Regions from separate parts of the Homo sapiens genome. Here region 2 is linked to region 1. The links come from fine-mapping of genetic effects on gene expression. Tissue or cell type: aorta. Region 1 holds a variant in brackets; the other region holds the start of a gene. All regions are shown on one strand. Distances are between the middles of the regions.

Evidence for each region. PIP is the estimated chance that this variant, and not a neighbour inherited with it, causes the effect.
Region 2: it holds the start of IL17RE, and the variant in region 1 is fine-mapped to the expression of IL17RE in aorta (GTEx, PIP 0.98).

What each region holds. Positions count from the first base shown.
Region 1 is chr3:9,928,980-9,937,079 of GRCh38, forward strand. It overlaps IL17RC (interleukin 17 receptor C), which reads left to right. Exons shown (of 19, transcript NM_153460.4): 13 at 873-918; 14 at 1,049-1,170; 15 at 1,421-1,480; 16 at 1,916-1,964; 17 at 3,629-3,724; 18 at 3,841-3,879; 19 at 3,974-4,642. The coding sequence ends at 4,614. It overlaps CRELD1 (CRELD disulfide isomerase 1), which reads left to right and starts at 4,855. Exons shown (of 11, transcript NM_001077415.3): 1 at 4,855-4,941; 2 at 5,441-5,633; 3 at 5,856-5,938. The coding sequence starts at 5,460. RefSeq lists silencers at 3,827-3,886, 4,467-4,796 and an enhancer at 4,897-5,266. The variant C/G (reference allele first, on the strand shown) is at 4,723.
Region 2 is chr3:9,899,426-9,907,517 of GRCh38, forward strand. IL17RE (interleukin 17 receptor E) reads left to right here and starts at 3,423. Exons shown (of 16, transcript NM_153480.2): 1 at 3,423-3,639; 2 at 3,972-3,987; 3 at 4,607-4,726; 4 at 6,939-7,036; 5 at 7,281-7,440; 6 at 7,536-7,675. The coding sequence starts at 3,508. RefSeq lists an enhancer at 3,627-4,296.

The DNA of each region.
Region 1 (8,100 bases):
GAATGGGTTGCTCTACAGTTTCAAAGGGTGATTATAAGAACATTCACTCATCCGGCCAGGCGCGGTGGCTCACGCCTGTAATCCCAGCACTTTGGGAGGCCGAGGCGGGCAGATCACGAGGTCAGGACATCAAGACCATCCTGGCTAACATGGTGAAACCCCATCTCTACTAAAAATACAAAAAATTAGCCGGTCGTGGTGGTGGGCACCTGTAGTCCCAGCTACTAGGAAGGCTGGGGCAGGAGAATGGCGTGAACCTGGGAGGCTGAGCTTGCAGTGAGCTGAGAGGGCGCCACTGCACTCCAGCCTGGGTGACAGAGTGAGACTGGGCGACAGAGTGAAACTCCGTCTCAAAAAAAAAAAAAATTCACTCATTCAAGATTTTTTGAGCAGCACAAGTCACTGTTTTAGGCACTTGTGATAGACCCTAACATCTCTACCCTCATAGAACTTATATTGTAATGGAGAAAGGCAGGCAACAGACATTGTAAATAAATCATATAGTATCTTAAAATTGCATACAAATACCATGGGAAAGGGATAAGGTGGGACTGGGGTTGCAATTTTTAGCAGGGTGGTCATGTGAGAAAGGAATCTCTTTGAGAAGGTTAGATGAGAGGGGAACCATGCTCCGTAAGACATAAAAACAGCTTTAGGGTCAGAAGACGCTTTATACAGATGATCTCACAAGGCTGGGGCAGAGAAAGATGTAGTGATTCCTAATCACCCAGCCTTGAATCCACATCTGCCTCAGGTCAGATTGAGTGCAGATTCCCAACCCAACAGGCCTTCTGTTGCCTGCCCCATTCTGGTCTTTCTGCCTTTGGCTTTTGCTTTTCTTAGTGGCCCTAACCATGGTCTCTTCCCAGCAGGTGAACAGCTCGGAGAAGCTGCAGCTGCAGGAGTGCTTGTGGGCTGGTGAGTTGGGCCTGGGGGCAGCTGGGGCAGGGCCACCTCCTAGGGGTGAAGGTCAGGGCATGGGAGGCAGGCAAGTGGCCAATCCCAGCAAGGATGGGTCTTGGTCAGAGTGGCCTCTCACCCCTTCCAGACTCCCTGGGGCCTCTCAAAGACGATGTGCTACTGTTGGAGACACGAGGCCCCCAGGACAACAGATCCCTCTGTGCCTTGGAACCCAGTGGCTGTACTTCACTACCCAGCAAAGCCTCCACGGTTAGGACTGGGCGACCCTCCTCCACAGATCTCTCCAAATGCATCTCACATCTGGCCTCAAATTTTCACTCCATCCACCCTGTGCCGGTCTCTGGGAACATGGGGGGTGACTCAGACCAGGGCCATATTCAGCGGCATCACCAAAGTCTCCCAGTCCCCTCTACCTCATTCTACCCAGCTGTAGCCTGGTAGGTGCTGCCCTAAGGGTGCTACCTCCAGGTAACAGTGCCCCCATCCTTTGGCTTGGCAGAGGGCAGCTCGCCTTGGAGAGTACTTACTACAAGACCTGCAGTCAGGCCAGTGTCTGCAGGTGAGCTGGTGGAAGAAGGGCCCCACCTCAATGCCTAGGGGCAACAGGCCTAAAACTAGCACTCACCTACTGTCTATTTAGGCTTATTTTATGTTCAGCCCTGGGAAAGTTAAGAGTAGAAGAAGCACAGTTCCTATCCCCAAGGAGCACACTGTTGGCTAGACACCCATAAACAGATAACCACACCTACAGGTGCTAAGTTTTGGGTTCCAGGGAGAGCTTCCGGGAAGAATTTCTTCCTATAAGCCAGATTTGGTATGGAAGAAGTCATACCCTAGTCAGTGGGCACAGCACAAAGGCAGAGCAGCTGCAGGAACCTTAGCCGGGAGATATGCATAGTTGATGCTGGGAATTTGGAGATCAGGCCACCAGAGCTTGGTGAATATTGGAACACCTGGCTGGTGCCCTGGATTTGGTTCTGTTTGTATCTTACAGCTATGGGACGATGACTTGGGAGCGCTATGGGCCTGCCCCATGGACAAATGTGAGTATTGTAAGAACTGCCTTTCCTTTCTGTACCAGGAGTGGGGATCTTGACAGGGACCACTCTTGGGCACAGCACATGCAATGGCCTTGTCCTTCCCTGAGATCAGATAAACAGAGGGTCATTCCTTCATTCACTCAAAAAATGATGAGAGCTTGCAGGGATCGCAGGAACACCAAAAATATAAATCCTTGCCCCCGCCCCACCCCTAGAAGACTAGCAAGACATGAGCCAGTCACTTACATTTAAAGTGGGAGCTACTGAAGCACCACCAAGTGTTCAGTGCTGTAAATGCATACAATGTGGACCTGACCTGGGTGGGGTGAGGGGTGAGGGGCTCAGGGGGAAGGTTCCAGCAAAACTCTGAAGACTGAGCTAGGGGAAGGGGGTAGAGATACAGGGTCTTGGACAGGCAGGTTTCTGTCATGAGATAAAGATGCAGGAGACATGTAGGGGATTTGGATCTTATGTTGAGAGCAGCAGGAGCTACGATCAAATTTTTATATATTTCACACACACACACACACATATATATATATATATATATATATATATATATACTTATTTTTTTATTTATTTTTGAGGCAGAGTCTCACTCTGTTGCCCAGGCTGGAGTGCAATGGCGCGATCTCGGCTAACTGCAACCTCTGCCTCCCGGGTTCAAGCAATTCTCTACCTCAGCCTCCCGGGTAGCTGGGATTAATAGGCGCCTGCCACCATGCCCTGCTAATTTTTGTATTTTTAGTAGAGATGGGGTTTCACCATCTTGGCCAGGCTGGTCTTGAACTCCTGACCTCGTGATCCGCCCGCGTCGGCCTCCCAAAGTGCTGGGATTATAGTCGTGAGTCACCGCACCTGGCCCAAATTTATATTTTTAAAAGATCTCTGAGGCTGTCATGAATCAATTCAAGGCAAATCAATTGGAGGTAAAAAAAAAAAAAAAAAGACAGGGCAGGGACACCAGGTAGTTGCAGACACCCAGGACAGCAAGATCAAGGGCCCAGCAACCCTAGCTTAGGGGAGAAAAACAGCTGACATTTTAGCACTTAAGATGCTCGGCATTGTGTTAAGTATGTATTAACACATTGTGTTAAGCTTTATATGTATTAATATATTTAGTCCTCACACCAACCCTATGACACAGGTACAACTTTACAGAGGAGAAAACTGAGGCAGAGGGTGACATTACTTATTCAAAGACCCCTAAACAGATGGAGCTATATTCATCCACTGGCTCTGACACTGTGCTGTGGACTCTGGGCAAATCATTTCTTCGTTTTTTGTTTTGTTTTGTTTTGTTTTGAGAGGAGTCTCACCCTGTCGCCCAGGCTGGAGTGCAATGGCGCGATCTCGGCTCACTGCAACCTCTGCCTCCCGAGTTCAAGCGATTCTCTTGCCTCAGCCTCCCGAGTAGCTGGGATTACAGGCGTGTGCCACCACGCCCGGCTAATTTTTTGTATTTTTAGTAGAGACGGGGTTTCACCGTGTTAGCCAGGATGGTCTTGATGTCCTGACCTCGTGATCTGCCCGCCTCGGCCTCCCGAAGTGCTGGGATTATATAAAGGCATGAGCCACCGCACCCGGCCCAATTCATTTCTGTTAAGTCTCAGTTTTTCTTCTCTGTGGAGGGTAAGTTTCTAACTCTTCTTCTCTGGGTCTCCCAGACATCCACAAGCGCTGGGCCCTCGTGTGGCTGGCCTGCCTACTCTTTGCCGCTGCGCTTTCCCTCATCCTCCTTCTCAAAAAGGATCACGCGAAAGGTGAGCGCTTCCCGGCTCCCCATTCCCCTGGGGGAGGACCAGAGTGGCTGTGGGAGTTCTCCGAGGGAAAGCGGCGGCCGAGCTCACTGGCTGCCTCCGCCCCTCTCCCCTAACAGGGTGGCTGAGGCTCTTGAAACAGGACGTCCGCTCGGGGGGTGAGTGGGAGCAAGCGCTGGGCGGAGGGCCGCCCCCGGGGAGCCAGGCCTGTGCCAGCTCACCTCTTCCCTCCCCATCTGTTTTCTCCGGCAGCGGCCGCCAGGGGCCGCGCGGCTCTGCTCCTCTACTCAGCCGATGACTCGGGTTTCGAGCGCCTGGTGGGCGCCCTGGCGTCGGCCCTGTGCCAGCTGCCGCTGCGCGTGGCCGTAGACCTGTGGAGCCGTCGTGAACTGAGCGCGCAGGGGCCCGTGGCTTGGTTTCACGCGCAGCGGCGCCAGACCCTGCAGGAGGGCGGCGTGGTGGTCTTGCTCTTCTCTCCCGGTGCGGTGGCGCTGTGCAGCGAGTGGCTACAGGATGGGGTGTCCGGGCCCGGGGCGCACGGCCCGCACGACGCCTTCCGCGCCTCGCTCAGCTGCGTGCTGCCCGACTTCTTGCAGGGCCGGGCGCCCGGCAGCTACGTGGGGGCCTGCTTCGACAGGCTGCTCCACCCGGACGCCGTACCCGCCCTTTTCCGCACCGTGCCCGTCTTCACACTGCCCTCCCAACTGCCAGACTTCCTGGGGGCCCTGCAGCAGCCTCGCGCCCCGCGTTCCGGGCGGCTCCAAGAGAGAGCGGAGCAAGTGTCCCGGGCCCTTCAGCCAGCCCTGGATAGCTACTTCCATCCCCCGGGGACTCCCGCGCCGGGACGCGGGGTGGGACCAGGCGCGGGACCTGGGGCGGGGGACGGGACTTAAATAAAGGCAGACGCTGTTTTTCTACCCATGTGGCCCACACGCGTCTCCGTTTCAGTGGCGGGGCTGGCAAACGTCATTCCCTAGCCCCGCGGCCCTTTAAAGCCCGGA[C/G]AGGTGCAGCTCGGTGCCGCCTCTGGTTGGCTGGCGTGGGGTGACGTAATGGCACATGGCCCGTCGCCATTGGCTGGGCGGCAAGCTCCGCCCCCTGGACTGCGGCGCGGGTGGGGGTTGTGCGTTTTACGCAGGCTGTGGCAGCGACGCGGTGAGGAGACGGCCCACGGCGCCCGCGGGCTGGGGCGGTCGCTTCTTCCTTCTCCGTGGCCTACGAGGGTCTGGATCCTTCTCTGCCGGCTCGTGGGCCGTGCCTTTGCCCTTCTGCGAGGCCCTGAATCTGATCCCTTCCCTTCATATCCGGATCCGGGCTCCTCCCTCCAAGCCCGGGGTTCCGGACACCTCCCCCAAGACAACCCCTCTGGCCTCCTCTCCTTCAGTACTTGGAATCTGATCTCTTCTCCCTAATTCTGCGGATCCGGCCCCTAATATTCTTTATCAGACCCTCAGACAAGAGGCTGACTTCTGCCCCCTTGTCAAGGAGCGAGGCCACTTTCCTCTCCACCCCATGCTAGCGAGGATAACTTATTTCTCTTCTGGAATTGCATCTTATGCGCCTTTCCCCACCCATCCCCACAGCCCCTGCAATACCCAGTTTGGCCTCTTTTGCTTGTAATAACGCAGATCCCAGCGCCACGGCACCTTAGAACAGACCTTTTTCTTTCTCGCGTGGGGCCTGACTCCTTCAGTGAAGCCTCTCCACGCCCTCTATCTGCAGGTCCCCAGCCTGGGTAAAGATGGCCCCATGGCCCCCGAAGGGCCTAGTCCCAGCTATGCTCTGGGGCCTCAGCCTCTTCCTCAACCTCCCAGGACCTATCTGGCTCCAGCCCTCTCCACCTCCCCAGTCTTCTCCCCCGCCTCAGCCCCATCCGTGTCATACCTGCCGGGGACTGGTTGACAGCTTTAACAAGGTGGGTGCACCGGCAGCCTCGTTAGAGGGGAACACAGCGATTTAGAGTGGGGAACTCTGGGATGCAAATCTGCGTGGATTTAAGTTTCATCTTGGTCTCTTACTAGTTGTATGGCCCTAGGCAGGTTGCCTTTCTGTGCCTCAGTTTCCTAGTCAGTAGAACAGTGAAGTGCTAGCATGTGCCAGGCACTGTACTTAGCTATTACTAATTTTCTGTTTCCAGGGCCTGGAGAGAACCATCCGGGACAACTTTGGAGGTGGAAACACTGCCTGGGAGGAAGAGAATTTGTCCAAATACAAAGACAGGTAAGGGGCTGCTGGGGGAAGGGGTGTATATTCCCCTCCCCGCCAAATCTCTGCTCTGCTGGTGTAGGGCTAGGAACTCTTGGGGAGCACTTATTCATTCAACAAATAGCACTGAACATCTATAGTATAGCAGTAAACAAGGCAAGCAAAATGCCCCCTTCCTGGAGCTCACATTCTAGTAGAGAAGACAAGCAGTGAATGAGTAAGTGAATAATATTATGTCAGATGAAGAACAAACAGTGAAGCACGGTAGACTGCAGGACGGTGGGAGGCAAGGTGTTCAAGGTTTGGCATTTGAACAGAGAGACAGGAAGTGAAGAAGCGAGCTATGTGACAGGGAGGGAATTGGGCAGAGGATGGGACTGAGCTTGGTGTATTTGAGAAGTGGCTGGAGTGGAGTGAGCCAAGGGGAGAGTGCTAGAAGGTGAAGGCAAAGGCTTAAGCCTCGAGGGCTACAGAAAAGAGTTTAGATTTTTTTTGGAGTGTAATGGGAAGCTCTTGGAAGGCTATGAGCAGAAAAAGTGATACTGTCTTCTCTACACCTTTAAAGATTACTCACACTGCTATGTAGCAAACGGATTGTAAGGGGCAAGGGCGGAGGAAGCAGGGAGACCAGTTTGGGAGGCAAGTGCATCATCTAGGTACAAAGGCAACACAAGCTAGTGTGGTATCTAGTGGAGGACATGATGAAGAGGTCACAGTCTGGGTATATTTTGCAGAGAGAACAATAGGACCTGGTGATAGATTCATTATGGGTATAGAGAAACAGTAGAATAAAAGATGCTTACTAGATTTTGGGCCTGAGCAACTGGGTGAGTAGTGCAGCTGTTTTCTAAGATGGTGAGATGCGAAACCGAGAAGGTTTAGGGGAGGGGTGGGATGTGGTGTTCTTTGAACGTATTGGGCTGAAATGTCCATTAGACATCCAGGTAGACTCCATACAAATCTGGAATTCAGAAAAGAGTAGGAATTGGAAACAGGAATTTGAGAGTTGTCATTATATAGTCAGTATGTAAAGAAAGCCATGGGAAGGATACAGAAAGCCATTATATAGTCAATATATGTAATACAGAAAGCCATTTATATAGTCAGTATGTAAAGAAAGGCATGGGAAGGATACAGAAAGGCGAGCCCTGAGCCCTCCAGCTTTTCAAAGTCAGATGGAAGAGGAGTCAGCAAAGGCTCAGAGTTAGACCTGGTTGTCGGTTCTTAACCTCTCAGAGCCACAGTTTCTTCACCTGTAAAATGGGGATATTAATACCTGGTTTGCCTATTTCATAGAAGTGTGGAAAAGGCTTAACTGGGATGCCCACTAGAAATAAAGGTTTTGTTATTATGTAACATTGGTCATTTTCTCTTTTCCTTCGCCGGGCCTGAGTTTCCTCATTCAGGAATGAGGGGATTGGCTAAGACAACCCCAGAGGCACTTCCAGCTTTGTAATGGCTCCTGCGTTGCTTGCTTTTTTAAATCACCTCCTATATGCCAGGCACTGTGCCAGACCCTTTAAATACAGGATATAAGACATCAAATATTTATATATGTGTGTATATATATGTGTGTGTGTATATATATATGTGTGTGTATATATATGTGCATATATGTCTGCGTATATATATGTGCGTATATATATGCGTATATATATATATATATGTATATATTTGTGGTAAAATACACATAAAAAATTTCCCATTAAAGACATTTAATAATATTTACAATGTTGTGTAACCATCACCACTATGTAGTTCCAGAACATTTTCATTACCCCCCCAAAAAATCCTATACCTATTACACAGCCACTCCCTATTCTCCCCTTCCCTCGGCTCTTGGCAATCACTAATTTGTGTTAGTCAAGCAGAAATTATGGATTTGCTGATTTCATTGGAATCATAAAATATGTGGCCTTTTGTGTCTGGCTAGTTTCACTTAGCATAATGTTTTCAAGGTTCACCCATACCGTAGCATATATCAATACTTATTCCTTTTTATGGCTGAATAATATTCTCATTTGGCTGTACCACATTTTGTTTAACCATGCATCAGTTGATGGACATCTGCATTGTTTCTACCTTTTGGCTGTTGTGAATAGTGCTGCTATGAACATTGTCTACAAGTTTTCGTTTGAACACCTGTTTTCCATTCTTTTGGGTCTATATCCAGTAGT
Region 2 (8,092 bases), 30 kb before region 1:
GTTTTTCTTCCCTTTCTTCCCTCTTTCCCTCTCTTCTCTCCTCCCATCCTCCTTCCCTCCCTTCCTCTCTTCCTCCGTCCCTTCCTCCCTCCCTCCCTTCTTTCCTCCCTTCCTCCTTCCCTCCCTGCTGCCTTCTCTCCCTCCCTCCTTTCTTCCCTCCCTCCCTTCTTTCCTTCCTTCCTTTTTTTCCCTTCCTCTCTTCCTTCTTATCTCCATTTCTTTTCTGCTTCTCCTCCCATACCTTAACCAGAAGCAATTAACCAATATTTTCTCTGTGAGAGATCAGAAGATAAGGGTAAAGAAGAAGGATTGTTTTGGAATAGAACCAAGTTTCTCACTTCATGCCTCCAGCATTAGAAAACTCATTATTTGGGCCGGGCGCAGTGGCTCACGCCTGTAATCCCAGCACTTTGGGAGGCCGAGGTGGGCGGATCACAAGGTCAGCAGATTGAGACCATCCTGGCTAACACGGTGAAACCCCCTCTCTACTAAAAACGCAAAAAATTAGCCGGGTGAGGTGGCGGGTGCCTGTAGTCCCAGCTGCTCGGGAGGCTGAGGCAAGAGAATGGCGTGAACCTGGGAGGCGGAGCTTGCAGTGAGCCGAGATCGCACCACTGCACTCCAGCCTGGGCAACAGAGCAAGACTCCGTCTCAAAAAAAAAAAAAGAAAACTCATTATTGGCCAGACACAGTGGCTCACACCTGTAATCCTAGCACCTTGGGAAGCTGAGGCAGGATAACTGCTAGAGGCCAGGAGTTTGAGACCAGCTTGAGCACCATAGCCAGACCCTATATGTAGCCAGGCAAAATGGTGTGTGCCTGTGAAGGGAGGATTCACTTGAGTCCAGGAGGTTGAGGCTGCAGTAAGTGGTGATTGCGCCATTGTCCTCCAGCTTGGGTGATAGAGTGAGACTCTGTCTCAAAAAAAAAAAAAGAAAAGAAAGAAACCTCATATTTATATAGCTCTAAACCACTGTGAGTTAGGTAGAATTTGGGGGAAGGCTCTCTAACCTATTCTTAGTATGGCCAGACCACCCTTTCCTCCTTTCAGATCTTACTGTTTTGTTTGCAGAGATGGACTTCAAGGCCAAAAGGCATACTGTGTTAGGGTCTGTGTCAGGCAGCCCCTTTTGGGTTCCAAGAGCAGAGGAAGATGAGGCTGTGTGAGGGAAGACCATAGGATGATAGAGAATTGGTACCGGGCACAGTGGCTCATGCCCATAATCCTAGCACTTTGGAAGGTTGAAGCAGGTGGATCACTTGAGGCCAAGAGTTCAAGACCAGCCTGGCCAATGTGGCAAAACCCTGTCTCTACTAAAAATACAAAAATTAGCCAGGCATAGTGGTGCACAGCTGTAATCCCAGCTACTCAGGAGGCTAAGGCACAAGAATCACTTGAACCTAGGAGGCGGAGGTTGCAGTGAGCCAAGAACACACCACTGCACTCCAGCCTGGGCAACAGAGCAAGACTATCTCAAAAAAAAAAAAAAAAAAAAAAAGCCAGGTGCTGTGGTTCATGCCTGTAATCCCAGCACTTTGGGAGGCCAAGCTGGGCTCAGATCACCTTAGGTCAGGAGTCCAGGACCAGCCTGGCCAACATGGTGAAACCCGTCTCTACTAAAAATACAAAAATTAGTCTGGTGTGGTGGCGTGCACCTGTAATCCCAGCTACTCGGGAGGCTGAGGCGGGAGAATCGTTTGAACCTGGGAGGTGGAGATTGCAGTGACCTGAGATTGCACCATTTGCACTCCAGCTTGGGTGACACAGTGAGACTCTGTCTCAAAAAAAAAAAAAAAAAAGAGAGAGTTGAGTTGCGAGGGCCTAGCAAAAGGGGAGCTCCCTGAACTATAGACTTTGACCTTGTCCAAATCATTATCCCTCTGCTTCCTTATCTCTCTATGAAATGAAAACAATAATTAACACTTACCTGTCTCACAGGTAGGGTTAGGAGGATTAAATATAAAAGTGTTTTGTGAAGTGTGAAACAGATAAACTACATAGATGAAATGTATCATGACATTTATTCAATTACACAGCACATACTTCATAATATCTACTGCTAGGCTTGGAGAAACATAAAGAATAAGAGTTTTTATCTTTTCATGAACTCAAAAAGCTAGAGGGTACTTTTAGGATAATGGGTAGGATGCAGCCTTCAGACAATGAACCTAAAGACAGGAATAGAATTGGCCAAAAGCAGGCTGTGGTTAGGCCACTGAAAGGTGGTCTAGATTGAATTGCAGGGGGACAATAACAATCTCAAGATGCCTTGGCTGGGCGCCGTGGCTCACGCTTGTAATCCCAGCACTTTGGGAGGCCAAGGTAGGTGGATCACATAGTCAGGAGTTCGAGACCAGCCTGGCCAATATGGTGAAACCCTGTCTCTACTAAAATACAAAAATTAGCCAGGCATGGGGCAGGTGCCTGTACTCCCAGCTACTCAGGAGGCTGAGGCAAGAGAATCGGTTGAACCCAGCAGGTGGAGGTTGCAGTGAGCAGAGATTGTGCCACGGCACTCCAGCCTGGGTAATAGAGCAAGACTCAGTCTCAAAAAAAAAAAAAAAAAAAAAAAAAAAGATGCCTTGACCTGGTAGGTGTGCCCCAAACTTTCTTTCCAGTGTGTGTGTTACCAAGGTGAGGGCTGAAGCTGCTCAAATGCTCCATGAAGGGGAGGAAGCTGTGGGATGATGGGGAGGGTTCCCACAAAGATGGAGCCTCGTCAGCCTTTCTCCAGCACCGGAAACCACAGGAAACCAGGTCAGTGTGTGGGGCCCGCTCCCTCTGCTCCAGGGCTCAGCTGTGAGCTCTGGGGCTTCCTGAGCAGGGCGTACTGACTAGTGGGTCCTTGAAGCTAGAGGCCCCTTTGGTATGGAGCCCTTTGCCTAGAAGAGCTGGACCTGGCTCATGGGTAGAGAGAACTCGGCTATAGTCCTGAGAGTTAACCAGTTGGGAAGCCAGGGTACATATGGGCTTCATGTGCATCCTAGAGTGCTTTTTTTCTTCCCCACTCTAAATGGTGCCTCAGTCACCTCTGTATCTCCAGCACCCAGTGCTGAGTAGTGCTTAAGAGCTCGGCTAATTCTCTAAGTGAGGGGGTGAAGCGCATGTCTATGGGAGACACAAGTTCCAGAGTGTGCTGATGGGTGGATCAGATCTGCAGTGTGTTTCAGGAGTAGGAGGGGCTAAGAAATGGGTGCGTCCCCCAACCTGATGCTAGCCCCTTTCCTGTTACTTCTCACCCACAGCAGGAGCCCCTTGTCTTTCAGGTGGGGGGCAGTAGGGTTTTTGGGGGCACAAGCTTTCCTCAGTCCCTCCACTTGGAGGGGAAGGAATGTGGCCTGGCTGGCTGGTTGGGATCAAGGAGGAGCTTTCGGGCAGGGCGGGGCCAGGGCAGGCTGGGGCGAGGGCTCCTGCTGGTACTGTGTTCGCTGCTGCACAGCAAGGCCCTGCCACCCACCTTCAGGCCATGCAGCCATGTTCCGGGAGCCCTAATTGCACAGAAGCCCATGGGGAGCTCCAGACTGGCAGCCCTGCTCCTGCCTCTCCTCCTCATAGTCATCGACCTCTCTGACTCTGCTGGGATTGGCTTTCGCCACCTGCCCCACTGGAACACCCGCTGTCCTCTGGCCTCCCACACGGTAAGGTGCTGCTGCCAGGTAGGGACACCTGCCTGGCACAGCCATAAAGCTCCCCACTCCCCTGCCTGCCCTGTGCTACCTCCGCAGTCCCTGTGCTCTGGTGGCAGCTTTGATGTGTCCTCTACCTAGTCTCAAAGGGGTAGCCAAGGTCCTTTGTGCTGAGGGCCTGGACAGGGTGGAGCTGGGAAGATAAGAGCCAGAAGGTATGGGCTATTAGCTATGGGGCTCAGAATTTGCTGATTTGAAGCAAAGACCCCAGGAATGTGCCTTATGGGAGTCTCTCCTAATAATAGCTCTTTCCTTTCTTTTCCCTACTGGGCCCTGTGCCTCAGGATGACAGTTTCACTGGTGAGTCGCATTTCCTGCCCCATTGCTCCTCCCCACGCCCACTATTTTTGCAGATGCCTAGCAAGCCCTCCATTCTAATTTTCAGTTCCCAACCCGGGAAGTAGCACAATATCAAGGAAAAATTTGGAATCATGACAAGCCTGGGTTCACATTGCAGTTCTGCCAGACTCCCGTGTGGCCTCAGACTGTGCACCTAACCCCTCCAACTGACCCTCAGTTTCTGAGGGGTAGTAGCATAGTAGAAATGATTGTACACTAAAGGCAGTGTTGCTTCTGATCTGTAGAGAGGATTAGATGAGAAACATGAGTAAATCTCCAGGTTCTCCATATATGTTGGCTCCTCCCCTTAACTGATCCCTCACTTCTATCAGTAATACAACAATAATCCTTCCTATTTTATGGTATGTTCTACTTCACAAGACATTTTCCCATACACTACAATTTTGATTTTTATAACAGACCCGCTTTATGAATGAGGAATCTGATCCTTAGACAGGTCCTGTAACCCCCAAAGTCATACTTCCAGGATGTGACAGAGCTTGGCCTCAAATCCAGCTTGTTGGAGGTAGGAGGGACCTTCTTAGACCCTATCATTTGCTTTCCCTTCCATCTTTCCCAGGAAGTTCTGCCTATATCCCTTGCCGCACCTGGTGGGCCCTCTTCTCCACAAAGCCTTGGTGTGTGCGAGTCTGGCACTGTTCCCGCTGTTTGTGCCAGCATCTGCTGTCAGGTGGCTCAGGTATGAGAAACAGCCCCTTGGGCCATTCTCAGTGAAGAGAACATTTTGAGGGACCACCTAGGCTGAGCAAGTGGGACTTACTAGAACAGATATTTGTCTTGTTTTAACCTCAACTGGGACTTGGATTATCCTAAAATAGCACGCTATGACTGATATTCACAAATACAATTGTACAATTTTATGAAGGTTTTTTTTCAGCTGAGATTCTTGGAATTAAAAGCTATGGATTTATTGTTATTACCATCTATTTGTAGAGCAGGATCTTCTTTCTTACTCTATATTTTAATTGCTCAGCTCAGTGCCTGGTACATACTAAATGCCCTTACATTGCTTAAGAATTGGCAGTTTCTAGGCCAGGCGCGGTGGCTCACGCCTGTAATCCCAACACTTTGGGAGGCTGAAGCAGCCTGATCACCTGAGGTCAGGAATTCGAGACCAGTCTGGACAACATTGTGAAACCCCTGTCTCCACTAAAAATACAAAAAATTAGCAGGGCCTGGTGGCAGGCACCTGTAATCCCAGCTGCTCAGGAGGCTGAGGCAGGAAAATCACTTGAACCCAGGAGGTGGAGGTTGCAGTGAGCCGACATCATGCCATTGCACTCCAGCCTGGGCGACAAGAGCAAAACTCCATCTCCAAAAAAAGAATTGGCAGTTTCTGGGCCAGGTATGATGGTTCACACCTGTAATCCCAGCACTCTGGGAGGCCAAGGTGGGTGGATCGCTTGAGTCCTGGAGTTTGAGACCAGCCTGGCCAACATGGCCAAACCCCATCTCTACAAAAAAATACAAAAATTAGCTGGATGTGGTAGTGCACACCTGAAGTCCCAGCTACTTGGGAAGCTGAGGTGGGAGGATCACCTGAATTCAGGAGGTGGAGGTTGCAGTGAGTTAAGATAGCGCCACTGCACTCCAGCCTGGATGACAGTGTGAGACCCTGTCTCAAAAAAAAAAAAAAAAAAAAAAAAAGAATAGGCAGTGTTTAATTTTTCTAATTGTTTGTTGTTAGAAATAATGCTACAGGGCTGGGCACAGTGGCTTATGCCGGTAATCCCAGTACTTTGGGAGGCTGAGGCGGGCAGATCACCTGAGGTCAGGAGTTTGAGACCAGCCTGGCCAACATGGTGAAACCCCGTCTCTACTAAAAATACAAAAATTAGCCAGGTGTGATGGTGCATGCCTGTAATCCCAGCTACTCAGGAGGCTGAGGTGAGAGGATTGCTTAAGCCCAAGAGTTCAAGACTGCAGTGAGCAGTGATTGTGCCACTGCACTCCAGCCTCCATGACAGAGCAAAATCCTGTCAAGAAAGGAAGGAAGGAAGGAAGGAACGAAGGAAGGAAGGAACAAAGGAAGGAATGAAGGAAAGAAAGAAAAGAGAGAGAGGCAGGGACTGGCGTGGTGGCTCACGCCTGTAATCCCAGCACTTTGGGAGGCTGAGGTGGGCAGATCTTGAGATCAGGAGATCGAGACCATCCTGGCTAACATGGTGAAACCCCGTCTCTACTAAAAGTACAAAAAATTAGCTGGGCGTGGTGGCAGGCGTCTGTAGTCCCAGCTACTCTGGGGGCTGAGGCAGGAGAATCGCTTGAAGCCAGGAGGCGGAGATTGCAGTGAGCCAAGATCGCGCCGCTGCACTCCAGCCTGCGTGACAGAGCAAGGCTCCGTCTCCAAAAAATAAAAATTAAAGAATGCTAAAATGAATATCTTTGTATATATAGCTTTTTCTCTGCTTAAGAAATTAATCTTTTCTTGATTGCTTTATAATTTTCAAGATTAAAGAAGCTTGACATCCTTACCCTCCTTGATTTAAAACGACTTACTATCAGGCCGGCTCATGCCTGTAATCCCAGCACTTTGGGAGGCCGAGGCGGGCGGATCACCTGAGGTTGGGAGTTCGAGACCAGCCTGACCAACACGCAGAAACCCCGTCTCCACTAAAGATACAAAATTAGCCGGGCATGGTGGCACATGCCTGTAATCCCAGCTACTTGGGAGGCTGAGGCAGGAGAATCACTTGAACTTGGGAGGTGGAGGCTGCAGTGAGCCGAGATCGCGCCATTGCTCTCCAGCCTGGGCAACAAAGAGCAAAACTCCATATCAAAATAAATAAATAAATAAAATAAAATAAAATTACTTACTAACACTGGGCCACATCTCCAGGCAGGGGAGGGGGTAATGAGGGCTAGATAGTAAGTACGTCTCCCCTGCACAGGTCTTCAACGGGGCCTCTTCCACCTCCTGGTGCAGAAATCCAAAAAGTCTTCCACATTCAAGTTCTATAGGAGACACAAGATGCCAGCACCTGCTCAGGTACTCTCCCTGTCAGTTCCAGCCCTACCTGACGCCCCACAGACCTTTGCTTTCTGGCCTCTCATTTGGTTCTCCAGCCATGTGAGACAGAAAGTGTGGAGATGAAGTATTCTGTCTATTACACAGCTAGGGAGGCCAAAAGAGTTTGAGCAACTTGCCTGTAGTACCTCAGGTTCCAGAGGCAGAAACAGAAGCCAGGTTTCCTGATTTCTGGCCTGAGGCCAACCTTGTTCTCTGCCTTTAGAGGAAGCTGCTGCCTCGTCGTCACCTGTCTGAGAAGAGCCATCACATTTCCATCCCCTCCCCAGACATCTCCCACAAGGGACTTCGCTCTAAAAGGACCCAACCTTCGGATCCAGAGACATGGGAAAGTCTTCCCAGATTGGACTCACAAAGGCATGGAGGTGGGCACTGGGTACAACAGGAGATGGGTTCAGCTGAGTGGTGGTACCAGTGCTAAGGCCAAGAGACAAGGCCACTGAGTCCTTCCTCTCCCCAGGACCCGAGTTCTCCTTTGATTTGCTGCCTGAGGCCCGGGCTATTCGGGTGACCATATCTTCAGGCCCTGAGGTCAGCGTGCGTCTTTGTCACCAGTGGGCACTGGAGTGTGAAGAGCTGAGCAGTCCCTATGATGTCCAGGTATGGTGTGTCATCCCCCTGTAAAAAGCCCGATCACACAGTGCTAGCAAAAGAGGCCACCCATTGTACAAATGAGGAAACTGAGGCCCAGAGAGGGATGGTAACTGTCCAAGACCTCCTTACAAGCTGAAGGGTCTATCATTAAGACTTCTTTGGGCGTGGCATGGTGGCTCACACCTGTGGTCCCAGCACTTTGGGAGGCCAAAGCAGGAGGATTGCTTGAAGCCAGGAGTATAAAACCAGCTTGGGCAACATAGTGAAACCCTGCTGCTAAAAATAAATAAATAAATTAATTAATTAATTAATTAAATTAAATTTAAAGACTTCTTTGGACTAGACAGAAAAGGCAGACGGCCTTGTCACCGGGAAGAACAGGAAAGGCAGGCAGAGACCTGGAGCAGCCATGAATGACCATGA